2 linked regions of the Homo sapiens genome follow. The protein of the gene in region 1 interacts with the protein of each later gene in a biochemical or structural test. Each region holds a gene or a part of one and is shown in the gene's direction. Other genes may lie near its edges.

What was found. Proteins that work in one complex are often made in the same cells at the same time.
Region 2: the proteins of NUDCD2 (region 1) and MYH9 form a complex in vitro, tested with the Homo sapiens proteins (one study listed by BioGRID).

The regions. Positions count from the first base shown.
Region 1 is NC_000005.10:163,450,083-163,457,119, reverse strand, and holds part of NUDCD2 (nudC domain-containing protein 2), read left to right. Parts: intron 1-39; coding exon 40-191; intron 192-3,069; coding exon 3,070-3,153; 3' UTR 3,154-7,037. UniProt on the Homo sapiens protein: May regulate the LIS1/dynein pathway by stabilizing LIS1 with Hsp90 chaperone.
Region 2 is NC_000022.11:36,280,743-36,286,967, reverse strand, and holds the end of MYH9 (myosin-9), read left to right. Parts: intron 1-60; exon of another isoform or gene 61-121; coding exon 122-250; intron 251-1,014; coding exon 1,015-1,103; intron 1,104-1,186; coding exon 1,187-1,310; intron 1,311-1,638; coding exon 1,639-1,847; intron 1,848-2,456; coding exon 2,457-2,565; intron 2,566-2,702; coding exon 2,703-2,875; intron 2,876-4,182; coding exon 4,183-4,300; 3' UTR 4,301-5,688; downstream 5,689-6,225. UniProt on the Homo sapiens protein: Cellular myosin that appears to play a role in cytokinesis, cell shape, and specialized functions such as secretion and capping. Required for cortical actin clearance prior to oocyte exocytosis. Promotes cell motility in conjunction with S100A4.

The DNA.
Region 1 (7,037 bases):
ATTTATTTGTGCGTGTGTGTGTGTGTGTTTTTTTTTTAGAGGACAGAAAAATGGTTCGTATTGTTCTTACAAAGACAAAGAGAGATGCAGCAAATTGTTGGACTTCTCTACTAGAATCTGAATATGCAGCGGATCCTTGGGTGCAAGACCAAATGCAGAGAAAGCTTACATTAGAGAGATTCCAAAAAGAAGTAAGTCAGATGAAGTGTATGAGTATGTGTAATTAAATATATAAAAATCATCAAATAAATATTTGAAATTAAAACTCAAATGTCATTATGAAAAGTTACAAACATTTTCTAGAAGAATTTTTAAAGTGAATTGTTAGAAAAATGGCCTTTCTTGTATGGATTTGATTTTTCGGAAGATTTTCTTGAGAGGAATTTATTTGTATTGCTGTGATTTGTGAGTTTAAGCTTACTTTTATGTACATCAGTAATGCATGAATAAACTCTTACTATAGTTGAATCAATATAGACTTACCTAGTGTAAAAAGTGAAAGGCCCCTTCACCACCATTCTCCCCATTCCATGCATCTATCTCATTTTCATCTCATATGTTGGCTATTGCTTGTTTTGTTTTGTTTTTTAGCATAAATGGAGGATCACACTGTGTGTATTGTTCTTCTTGTTGCTTTTTTATTTAATAATATGCTGTGGGTCTCTTTCCCTACTAATACATAGGTATAAAACTCATTCTTTTTAACTGCTTCAGAGGATTCTGTAGTTTGGATGTGTCATCATTATTTGGCTGTTTGCCTTTGATATGATTTAGATTTCTTCATTTTTCTCTATTTTAAAGAAAGCTGTGCTTTCATCTCTGTGAAACTACTCAAGTGTTCTAAGATATCTTTAAGATAAATATCTAGGAGAGGAATTGCTAGATTGCAGCACTTGATAATGTACGTCTTTATGATAATGATTTCCAGATGTATATCTCTAGCCTAGACTTTTTTTCTGAATTTAGGACCTGCATACCCGGTTGCCTATTCAACATCTCCACCTGGCTATCTAATGTATATTAAGCTCAACATGTCCAAGTTGAACACCCTAACATCCTTCCATATTTGTTTTTACCTGTAGCCTTTTCATCTCAGTTGATGAAAACTAGTAGTTCAGGTCAAAAAAAATTGGGACTCATCTTTGATTCTTACATCTTTCTCATACCCTATCCAATGTATTAGGAAATCTTACTGATGCTACCTTCGAAATATATTTAGAATTTGGCCACTTTTCACCACCAACTCTACCACCATTCTGATCTGGACCACCTCTAATGTCTTGCCTGATTACTCTAATAACGTTCTAATTGGTCTTCTCACTTTTACTCTTGCCATAGTCTTCTCAAAATAGCAGTTAGAGCAGTTCTTTTTTTTTTTTTTTTTCTGAGATGGAGTGGTGCGATCTCTGCTGACTGCAAGCTCCGCCTCCCGGATTCCCGCCAGTCTCCTGCCTCAGCCTCCCGAGTAGCTGGGACTGTAGGCTCCCGCCACCACGCACGGCTAATTTTTTTGTATTTTTAGTAGAGGTGGGGTTTCACCGTGTTGGCCAGGATGGTCTCAATCTCTTGACCTCGTGATCCGCCCGCCTTGGCCTCCCAAAGTGCCGGGATTACAGGCGTGAACCACCGCGCCCAGCCAGTTAGAGCAGTTCTTTTAAAATCCAAGTCACATCATGCCACTTCTCAGAACTCTGCAAGTCATTTCTCGGCCCTTTCTGATCAGTTATTCCATCATCTCCCTGATTACCTCCTCCCTTACAGCTATCCCTCTTAGTGATTCTGCTTTTGCCATACTGGCCTGTTTGCTGTTCCTTAAAGAACATGTCAGCCCATCCCTTTGCTATCCTGACTGCAATGCTCTTCTCCCACAGTTTGGCTAACTTTTATGTTTTCATATCATTGCTCAATGAAGCATACTTTGATCATCCCATTTAAATATAATTTTATTTCCCTTATCCTGTTTTTTTTTTTTTTCTGTGTCACTTACCAACTTTTAACACGACATCAGCGGTTGGCAAACTACAGCCCTTGGGCCAAATTTGGCCCACTACCTGTTTTATAGCTTTTCTAGGATACGTATATGCTCATTTGTTTGTATATTGTCTTTCAGACAGTTGAGTATTTGTGACAGAGACTATGTGGACTGCAAAGCCTAACATATTTACTACCTAGTTTTTAAAAAGTCTGCCAGCCCCTGTACTGGTTGATTTATGGTTTGTCTCCTCCTGCTAGAATGTTAAGTTCCACTAGAGCAGGGATTTTTGTTTTTTTTCACTCTTGAATTCTACATACCTCTAATGGTCTCCCAAACAGTAGGAGCTCAACAAATGTTTGTTGGATAAACGAAATAGCCCACCAAAAAGACTAAGGCCTGACATAGTACTTCACAGGACTGTTGTGAGGGTTAAATATCTTATATATGTATAGCTCTTAGAAATTTGTGTGGCATATAGAAAGCTCTCAAAAAATGCTAGCTATAGGCTGGGCGCCATGGCTCACGCCTGTAATCCCAGCACTTTGGGAGGCTGAGGCAGGCGGATCACCGGAGGTTGGGAGTTCAAGACAAGCCTGACCAACATGGAGAAACCCCGTGTCTACTAAAAATACAAAATTAGCCAGGCATGGTGGTACATGCCTGTAATCGCAGCTACTCGGGAGGCTTAGGCAGGAGAATCGCTTGAACCTGGGAGGCAGAGATTATGGTGAGCTGAGGTCGCACCATTGCACTCCCGCCTGGGCAACAAGAGCGAAACTCCGTCTCAAAAAAAATAATAATAAATAAAATAAAAATGCTAGCTATTAAATATAACTACAGACTTTTATTGAAGTATATGTTTCCCCATACACTTGCCAACATTGTAGTGTACATATGATGTCTAAATATTTGTAACTGGGAGAGTTGAAAAATGCCTCATAATTTTAAATATTACTTTGGTGGTAACAGTGAAGTCTGTTATATTTTCATGTATTTATTGGTCATTTATATATCCTTTTTTATCAATTGCCAGTTTGTACTTGTATTTTTCCTTATAAGTTTTATTTCATTATATATATGTTTGTATCTTTTAGAATCCTGGTTTTGACTTCAGTGGAGCAGAAATCTCAGGAAACTACACTAAAGGTGGACCAGATTTCTCAAACCTTGAGAAATAACTGCTTTTTTTCCTGCATTCTGTGGATCCTAGCAGATATTGCCAACTTAATCAGATAAACAGATTATGTAATGGAAGAAAAATGCGGATGCCTACAGTTAACAGATTGCAAAATGTATCTTAAAATGGTTCTAAAAATTGCATTCAAACATAATTTACATAGGAAATGTACTGTGGGAACTATTCTATGGATATATGGTAAAGTTGTTTTGGACTTGTTTTTGCTCAGCATGAAGTTTTATATGCTGCATTTTACTAATTCCATATTTAACCATATTTTTAATACAAAAGAACATTAGAGTATAGATCATGTGAAATGAAGGGTGCCTTTGGGGAAAATTAACTTTTTCTTTTGATAAGTATGATATTCAATAAAATTTTCTAAATAGGAATTGTGTACCCCTTTGTCTAAGTATAACAATTCACACAAAATTATAGTGCTGAAAACAATTTTAATAAAGGAAAAAGTCCATAAATGTATTTTAAGTAAATTAAGAGTTAATGTAAATTTCTTAATTAGAATATTATTACTTGAGGGATTACTTTATGTCAAGAAGTTTAAAAATAGTTAAAACCCTAACAATAGAAGTGGATTAACACAAAAGAGAAGTGTGATCATGGTAATTAGGTGAGTCCTTTGTGGCAGAAAGCAAAGTAAGGTCACTAATTGTATATCAGTGGCATCATTTTGATTGTAAGTGATTTAGGCATATAGGTAGGAATTGTCTATAGACATTTTATTCAATATCCTATTTATGTCCTTTTTATTTTTTGCCCTTTTTAACTCTTGAAAAAATTTTAAATCTCATGCATAGAAAAGTTACAGATAATTTTTTTCTTTCTGAACCATTTGTGATTTAGTTGAAGACATGATTCCTCATTACTGATTACTATCTGCTTCAAATTATCTTACATGACTACAATGCAACCATTAGAATCAGGAAATTTACGTTGACACATTACTACCCTCTAATCCTCAGATCTTCACTTCATTCACATTGAACTGATTGTCCCAATAATGTCCATATAGCAAGAGGATCCAGTCAGAATCATGCCTTTCATTTAGATGTCAGCTGTCTTTAGTTTACTTCATTCTGGAACAAATTCTCATTTGTTTCCTTTTACAACTTAGTACTTTTGACAATTATGGGCTAGTTTTGTAGAACACCCCTTATTTTGAGTTCTGTCTGATACTTCATGATTAGATTGAGGTTATTCATCTTTGGCAGGAATGTGATAGAAGTGCATCCTGTCATTGTTTAATAATTTCAGTTTGTCTCATTTCTGATGGTGTTTCTTAGATGACTGATTAAGGTAGTGTCTGCCAGACTTCTCCACTGTAGTTATTTTTATAATTATTTCTTGAGAAGATAGTTGCAAAATACTACCTTGTTTCTGATCAGACTTTAAATTTATCGTATCTCTATAAACTCATTATTTTCTATTTTATTCAGCAGGTTAAAAAACCTATTATCATTACATTGGTGCTCAAAATTATTGTACATTTGGCTGGTAGAAGTCCATTCTGGGTGGCCTCTGTGTCCTTCTGACACATTCCCATCATTATTCAATGAATTTGTTACTCTCTGGCATAAGATATACCAGGCTTCTCATGCTGTCCTCGACCTAACCCAAGAATCAGCCATTTTTCCGTAGAGCCTGGGTTCTCTTTAGTGAGTAATATTTAAAAGCCAAGATCTGTGCTAGTGTGCAATTGCCGTTGGTGTGTATATATAATGCATGTCTTTACATCTATATTTCTGCATCTATGTATATTGAAAACCATGAATTCACATATAAATTCTGATCCCATGGGCTTCATTTTCATTTTTTCCTTCTCCACATTTATAACCGTTTTCAGTACCAGTGAGAAACCTGATTCCTATTTGATTATTTGTGGGGTTTTTTTTTTTTAAGGTGGAGTTTCACTCTTGTTGCCCAGACTGGAGTGCAGTCGCGCGATCTCGGCTTACTGCAACCTCCGCCTCCTGGGTTCAAGCGATTCTCCTGCCTCAGCCTCCCAAGTAGCTGGGATTACAGGCATGCGCTGCCACACCTGGCTAATTTTTAATTTTTGGTAGAGACGGGGTTTCTCCATGTTGGTCAGGCTGGTCTCGAACTCCGGACATCAGGTGATCCGCCCGCCTGGGCCTCCCAAATTGCTGGGATTACAGGTGTGAGCCACTGCGCCTGGCCTGATTCTCTATTGTAGGTCATCTCCCCACATGAATGTCTTCCTCACCCTGCTTAGGCTTCGCATCCTATGCTGAGCAGGAATGTCCTCCTCATCCTGCCTGGACCCTAATACCTCACTCCAGGCCATGGCAGTCCATTCACCCTGTGATTCCTATCTTGCTCATTTTAGGAATGAATTGTCGGGGGAAGAGGCTATTTTTCTTTTAATTTTATTCTCTTTGACATTTAACAAAATTTTTTGAGTAAAGTAAAATTAACTTTTTTGGTGTATGGTTTGGTGAATTTTAAGTATAGATATGTGTAAACACCTCCACAGTCAGAGTATTGAAGAGTTCAATCACCGTAAAAACTCTCGTGCTCTCTTTGTACTCTACACACCCTACTCCCAGCCCCTAAACCTTGGAAACCACTGATCTAATCCCCATCTCCATATTTTTGTCTTCAAGCATGTTATAAATGGGATCATATATAATTAAGAAAAACGCTTTATTGTAACAACATACATTTCACCCATTTAAGGTGTGTAATTCAGTAGCTTTTAGTATATACACAGATAAATGCAACCATTCCAATAATCAATTTTAGAATGTTTTCATCACCTCAGATAGAAACCTTGTATAGTTTAGCTTTTATCCTTCTCCTGTCATCCCCCGCCATCCATACTACCTCTTTTCATCTCATAGATTTCCTTATTCTGGACATTTCATGTACATGGAATCATAATACGTGGTCTTTGGTTACTGGCTTCCTTCACTTTACATGTCTTAAGAGGTTCATCTATATTCGAGCATGTATCAGCACATTCATTAGTATGTCTGAAAATACTTCATTGTATGGCTGTAGCACTTTGTTTATACATTTGTAAGTTGGACATTTTGGGTATTTCCACCCTTTGGCTGTCCTGACTAAAGCTGCTATAAACGTGTACAAGTCTTTATGTGCATATGTGTTTTCATTTCTTACCTAGGAGTAGAATTTTTAGGTTATATGATAACTATGTTAATCATTTGAGGAGCTGTCATTGTTTCCCAAAGCAGCTACATCTTTTTACTTTCCCACCAGCAGTGTATGCAGGTTCCATTTTCTCTGCATCCTTGCCAATACTTGTTTACCTGACATTTTGATTTTAGTCACTCTAGTGGATATGAAATGGGATCTCTATCTAGTTTTGGTTTGCTATTCTCTGATACTATGTTGAGCATTCTTTCTTGTGCTTATTGGCTATTTGTGTATCTTCCTTAAAGCAGTGTTTATTCAAATTATTTACCCATTTTTTTAGTTGTCTTATTGGGTAGTAAGAGTCTTTATATATTCTGGGTACAAGTCTCTTACCAGGTATATGATTTGTAATTTCTCCTATTCTCTCTTTACTTTGTTGATAGTGTCTTTTGAAGCACAGACTTAATTTTGATGAAGTCTTATCCATCATGCCATTGGTGGATCATGTTTTTGGTGTCATGTCTAGGAACCTTAACCCCAGGTCATGAGGAATTTTTCTTTTTTCTTTTTTTGACTCACATTCTCACTCTGTCACCCAGGCTGGGGTGCAGTGGCACAATCTCCACTCACTGCAACCTCTGCCTGCTGGGTTCAAGTGATTCTTGTGCTTCAGTCTCCCAAGTAGCTGGGACTACAGGTGTGCACCACCACTCCCAGCCCATTTTTTTTTTATTTTTTATTTTTAGTAGA
Region 2 (6,225 bases), on another chromosome or scaffold:
TGGTTAAATACAGCATTGAGTGGAGCACCAGCCATGAGCCCTGTTGGCGAGGTGACCCATGAGGGTTGGGGTGGAGGGCCAAGGAGCTGGGTGGGGTGCCAAGCCTCTGTCCCCACCCCAGGCCCAGATGAAGGACTGCATGCGCGAGCTGGATGACACCCGCGCCTCTCGTGAGGAGATCCTGGCCCAGGCCAAAGAGAACGAGAAGAAGCTGAAGAGCATGGAGGCCGAGATGATCCAGTTGCAGGAGGTGGGTGGGGCTGCAATGGAGAGCGGCACCGCTGCCCTGCGGCCAGCAGGTGGCAGCGTGGGGCTTTCAGCTGAGGACAGGGCTGGAGTCCTACTGGGCTCCAGGAATTGGCTGGGGATGGCTCTCAGGTTACATAAGGATTCCCTCCAGGGTTCCGTTTCATAGCGGGGCTCCCTCGTATGATCAGAGTGTGTGTGTGTGTGAAACTGGCATCCCTCACATGAGATGAGGCTTTGTGGCCACCACCACCTCCTGCTGTGAATGCTGCCTGGTGAGAAGGGGTCTGAGCGTCCCCTCGGCCGCCCTGCCCGTCGCACCTGAGCCCGTCCTGAAGTGTTTCCCAGGTCTGGAGGGTGCCCTGCAGCGTGATGTGCCGGCTGCGAGTGCGTCCAGGGTGTAGCCATCTGCCTGTGGCCTCCAGAGCTGACTCCAAGCTCTGGCTTACCCAGAACAGGGAGGGGCCGCCCTGAGTGACTCTGTCCACGTGGTCTCCCTGGTTAGGCCAGGACACTTCTTACTTATCGCCATACCCTGGCACCTGGCTTGATTCCTAGCACTTAAATGTAAGAGTTTTATAAACATATGGTGTTTAAGCTATATCTTCAGGGGGGCACCAGCCCTGTGAGCTAGAGGGTTTCTGGAGGAAGGGCTTCGTGGGGAGGTGGGCCTGGGGAAGGGCTTGAGGGGAGGGTGCCTGGGGCTGGGAAGGATGGTCTTGTGGGGCTGTGGCTGCCTTTAGGTCACACTCTGGGTCTTTGTGGCAGGAACTGGCAGCCGCGGAGCGTGCCAAGCGCCAGGCCCAGCAGGAGCGGGATGAGCTGGCTGACGAGATCGCCAACAGCAGCGGCAAAGGGTGAGCTGAGTGAGGGGGCAGAGTTGGGGGGGACCAGGTGTGTCCCCAGGGTAGGCCCCTCACTTCTCCCGCCCACCCCGCAGAGCCCTGGCGTTAGAGGAGAAGCGGCGTCTGGAGGCCCGCATCGCCCAGCTGGAGGAGGAGCTGGAGGAGGAGCAGGGCAACACGGAGCTGATCAACGACCGGCTGAAGAAGGCCAACCTGCAGGTGGGTGCCAGGACTTCTCCCACTCTGGGCTCTGGCTGGAGCCACCACGGCAGAGCTGGCCTTGGACCCAGCCGGCAGAAGCACAGGCCAAGTGCCAGCTGCTCCCCAGGCGCTTAGGGGAAAATGTCCAGGCACCTGGACCTGAAAGGTCCCCCTCTGGCTTCTGTGTTGGGTGTTCAGAAGTTTCTAATCTTCCCTTTTCTGGGAGACCCAAGACTCTGGACCCCAAGGGTTTGGTGGGATCCTGCTGCCACCTTCCTCTGGCCCTGCTCATGCCCTCCAGCCAGGGCCCCAGCCCTCCCCAAGGTCACTGGCCCTTCTTCTGCAGATCGACCAGATCAACACCGACCTGAACCTGGAGCGCAGCCACGCCCAGAAGAACGAGAATGCTCGGCAGCAGCTGGAACGCCAGAACAAGGAGCTTAAGGTCAAGCTGCAGGAGATGGAGGGCACTGTCAAGTCCAAGTACAAGGCCTCCATCACCGCCCTCGAGGCCAAGATTGCACAGCTGGAGGAGCAGCTGGACAACGAGACCAAGTACGTGCCCCTGGCCCCGCCCAACCCCAGCTGTCCTGGAAAAAACTCTGGCCCCCCTGCAGTCCTGCCCAAATCTGGGCCACAACCAGCTCTCTGTCTCCTGAGCCTGGGGCTGTTTCCCTCCCTCCTGATGGGGCCCTCATCCCTTCCACAGGTTGGGTGGTTGGGGGAGCTTGTGGGGTTTGAACAGGATTCTCTGTTCCACCTCTAAAGCCAGGAGTTTTGGTGGCTGTGTCTGAGAGTGAATCAGAGCAGGAGGTACAGGGGGGTCCTGCCCACTAGGACAGTTGTCCTATGGGCTCAGCAGGACTGAGACTTCCTTGGAGGGAATGGGGTTTACAGTAGGCCCCCAGACCTCTTTTCCAGTTACATAGATGCTCTTTGAGGTGTGTCGCTTCCCTTACCTGAGCCCATTTCCTCATCTGTAAATGGGGCTATTTGCAGTGCCCGTCGTAAGAAGCCGGGTACACATAGGTGTCTAGCAAAGGCCTCCCTACGTGATCCCTAGATGCCAGTGAGCCCCGGGGAATGGGTGGTCCTGGTTAGGGCTTGTTGGCCGGACCCTCTGAAGGAGGGTGTTCCCTCTGAGCCACCTTGTCTGTCATGCAGGGAGCGCCAGGCAGCCTGCAAACAGGTGCGTCGGACCGAGAAGAAGCTGAAGGATGTGCTGCTGCAGGTGGATGACGAGCGGAGGAACGCCGAGCAGTACAAGGACCAGGTGTGGGCGCTGGTGGGGCAGTGAGAAGGGCAGCGGGGCTGGGCAGCAGATGGGGTGACAGGCAGGGCAGTGGGGCTGACTGGCTGCACGCCCAGAGCCCCTAACCGGGGCCACGGGCCACACGTCCATCTCCGCAGGCCGACAAGGCATCTACCCGCCTGAAGCAGCTCAAGCGGCAGCTGGAGGAGGCCGAAGAGGAGGCCCAGCGGGCCAACGCCTCCCGCCGGAAACTGCAGCGCGAGCTGGAGGACGCCACTGAGACGGCCGATGCCATGAACCGCGAAGTCAGCTCCCTAAAGAACAAGCTCAGGTGAGCCGCCCTGCCCACCCGCCCCTTTGCCTCGGCACTTCTCTCAAAAGGTAGCTTGTTCCTCAACCAGAGCCCACAAGCAAGGCACGAATGTCACCAAGAAAGGACTGCACAAAGCAATCCCTGCCCCTTCTGGCTCCTTGCCTTTGAGGCTTTAGCTTAGTGTTTTGAACACACAGTAAACTCTAGGTAGTTTATTCCCAGCTGTCCTAAAAGTCTATTGTCTTTTGAATTGGAAGTTGCTTGAGGCCACCTGGCCCAGTCCTGGCACATGTTAGGTGCCTCAGTTAAATATCTGCAAAACGAATGTGAGCCTCATGAGCAATGCCTACAGAGGTTAAAAACGCTCCTTTGCGTTTCTCAGGGAGTGTTAACACTCAAGAAGTAGTGAATGTTTGAAGCAGAGGATCTTATTCTCTGAGATTCTCATTTCTTACGTGTTTTTTTGTGGGTTTTTTGAGACTCTCATTTTGTGTTTTTTGAGATACTCATTTCTTACATGTTTTTTTCTTATGTGTTTACGTGTTTTTTTTATTTTTTTTGTTTTTTTTTTTTGAGACGGAGTTTCGCTCTTGTTGCCCAGACTGGAGTGCAATGGTGTAATCTCGGCTTGCTGCAACCTCTGCCTCCCGGGTTCAAGCGATTCTCCTCCCTCAGCCCCTGGAGTAGCTGGGATTACAGGCATGCACCACTATGCCCGGCTAATTTTTGTATTTTTAGTGGAGACGGGGTTTTACCATGTTGGTCAGGCTGGTCTCAAACTCCTGACCTCAGGTGCTCCACCCGCCTCGGCCTCCCAGAGAGCTGAGATTACAAGGATGAGCCACCGTGCCAGGCCTTCATGGGGCTCTTTTTGTAAGCATAAGTAGTCAGTATTGTATATGAATTTTCTGCCATGTGGTAGAAAGAGGGTGCCTGTCTTTGTACTCTGTGTGAACAGGCACACCTGTTTACCTGTCTTGGTTTCACCGGTTTTATAGGAGTTGCAACAGAGGATGGCATTTTACACTTACTTTTGTGCCTTTCCTGTTGTAATTGGTCCTGTTTGCCTGAGCTGTTTTTGTGCTACTGTTGTGTGTGAAGATGTCCGACACCTAAACATTTTGCGGGAAGCTTTGCCTGCTTTCCTGAGAGTGGTCCTGTCTAGCTCAGCTGTGGCTCCCAAGACTCCACTTTGCTTCTTTCTGGTGGGAGCAGCCAGGCACCTGGTTTCCCTCTCGAATTCACTTTGAGATGTGTGGGCTGTGCTGTGGCCGCCCCTGGCCTGGCCGGGCCCGCTGACCCTCTGCTTCTACCTCTGCCCCCAGGCGCGGGGACCTGCCGTTTGTCGTGCCCCGCCGAATGGCCCGGAAAGGCGCCGGGGATGGCTCCGACGAAGAGGTAGATGGCAAAGCGGATGGGGCTGAGGCCAAACCTGCCGAATAAGCCTCTTCTCCTGCAGCCTGAGATGGATGGACAGACAGACACCACAGCCTCCCCTTCCCAGACCCCGCAGCACGCCTCTCCCCACCTTCTTGGGACTGCTGTGAACATGCCTCCTCCTGCCCTCCGCCCCGTCCCCCCATCCCGTTTCCCTCCAGGTGTTGTTGAGGGCATTTGGCTTCCTCTGCTGCATCCCCTTCCAGCTCCCTCCCCTGCTCAGAATCTGATACCAAAGAGACAGGGCCCGGGCCCAGGCAGAGAGCGACCAGCAGGCTCCTCAGCCCTCTCTTGCCAAAAAGCACAAGATGTTGAGGCGAGCAGGGCAGGCCCCCGGGGAGGGGCCAGAGTTTTCTATGAATCTATTTTTCTTCAGACTGAGGCCTTTTGGTAGTCGGAGCCCCCGCAGTCGTCAGCCTCCCTGACGTCTGCCACCAGCGCCCCCACTCCTCCTCCTTTCTTTGCTGTTTGCAATCACACGTGGTGACCTCACACACCTCTGCCCCTTGGGCCTCCCACTCCCATGGCTCTGGGCGGTCCAGAAGGAGCAGGCCCTGGGCCTCCACCTCTGTGCAGGGCACAGAAGGCTGGGGTGGGGGGAGGAGTGGATTCCTCCCCACCCTGTCCCAGGCAGCGCCACTGTCCGCTGTCTCCCTCCTGATTCTAAAATGTCTCAAGTGCAATGCCCCCTCCCCTCCTTTACCGAGGACAGCCTGCCTCTGCCACAGCAAGGCTGTCGGGGTCAAGCTGGAAAGGCCAGCAGCCTTCCAGTGGCTTCTCCCAACACTCTTGGGGACCAAATATATTTAATGGTTAAGGGACTTGTCCCAAGTCTGACAGCCAGAGCGTTAGAGGGGCCAGCGGCCCTCCCAGGCGATCTTGTGTCTACTCTAGGACTGGGCCCGAGGGTGGTTTACCTGCACCGTTGACTCAGTATAGTTTAAAAATCTGCCACCTGCACAGGTATTTTTGAAAGCAAAATAAGGTTTTCTTTTTTCCCCTTTCTTGTAATAAATGATAAAATTCCGAGTCTTTCTCACTGCCTTTGTTTAGAAGAGAGTAGCTCGTCCTCACTGGTCTACACTGGTTGCCGAATTTACTTGTATTCCTAACTGTTTTGTATATGCTGCATTGAGACTTACGGCAAGAAGGCATTTTTTTTTTTTAAAGGAAACAAACTCTCAAATCATGAAGTGATATAAAAGCTGCATATGCCTACAAAGCTCTGAATTCAGGTCCCAGTTGCTGTCACAAAGGAGTGAGTGAAACTCCCACCCTACCCCCTTTTTTATATAATAAAAGTGCCTTAGCATGTGTTGCAGCTGTCACCACTACAGTAAGCTGGTTTACAGATGTTTTCCACTGAGCATCACAATAAAGAGAACCATGTGCTACGAGCCGTGTCTGTAGCATTTGTCTGCGGCCAGGGGGCCCTGGACAGGACTAGGCCTGGCTTCTGCAGCCAATGCCGGCTCTGCATCGTCGGGAACCAGATTGGCTGAGGCGTAGGCTGAGCTAGCTGTGGGCGGTTGTGCAGAAAAGCTAAGATGGAAAGGTGGGCTAGGCCAGATCCAAGGAGGCTAAGAGCATCTTAGAAACCTTGGTTCAAGGCCGAGCACGGTGGCTCACGCCTGTAATCCCAGCACTTTGGGAGGCTGAGGCAGGGGGATCACCTGAGGTCAGGAGTTCAAGACCAGCCTGGCCAACATCTCTACTAAAAATACAAAAAAAATTAGCCGGGCGTGGTGGTGTGTGCCTGTAATCCCAGCTACTCAGGAGGCTGAGGCAGGAGAATCGCTTGAACCCGGGAGGCAGAGGTTGCAGTGAGCTAAGATTGTGCCACTGCACTCTAGCCTGGGCGAGAGTGAGACTCTGTCTCAAAATAAATAAATAAAAAAATTTAAAAAAGTGGACACTATCTGGGTCAGCTT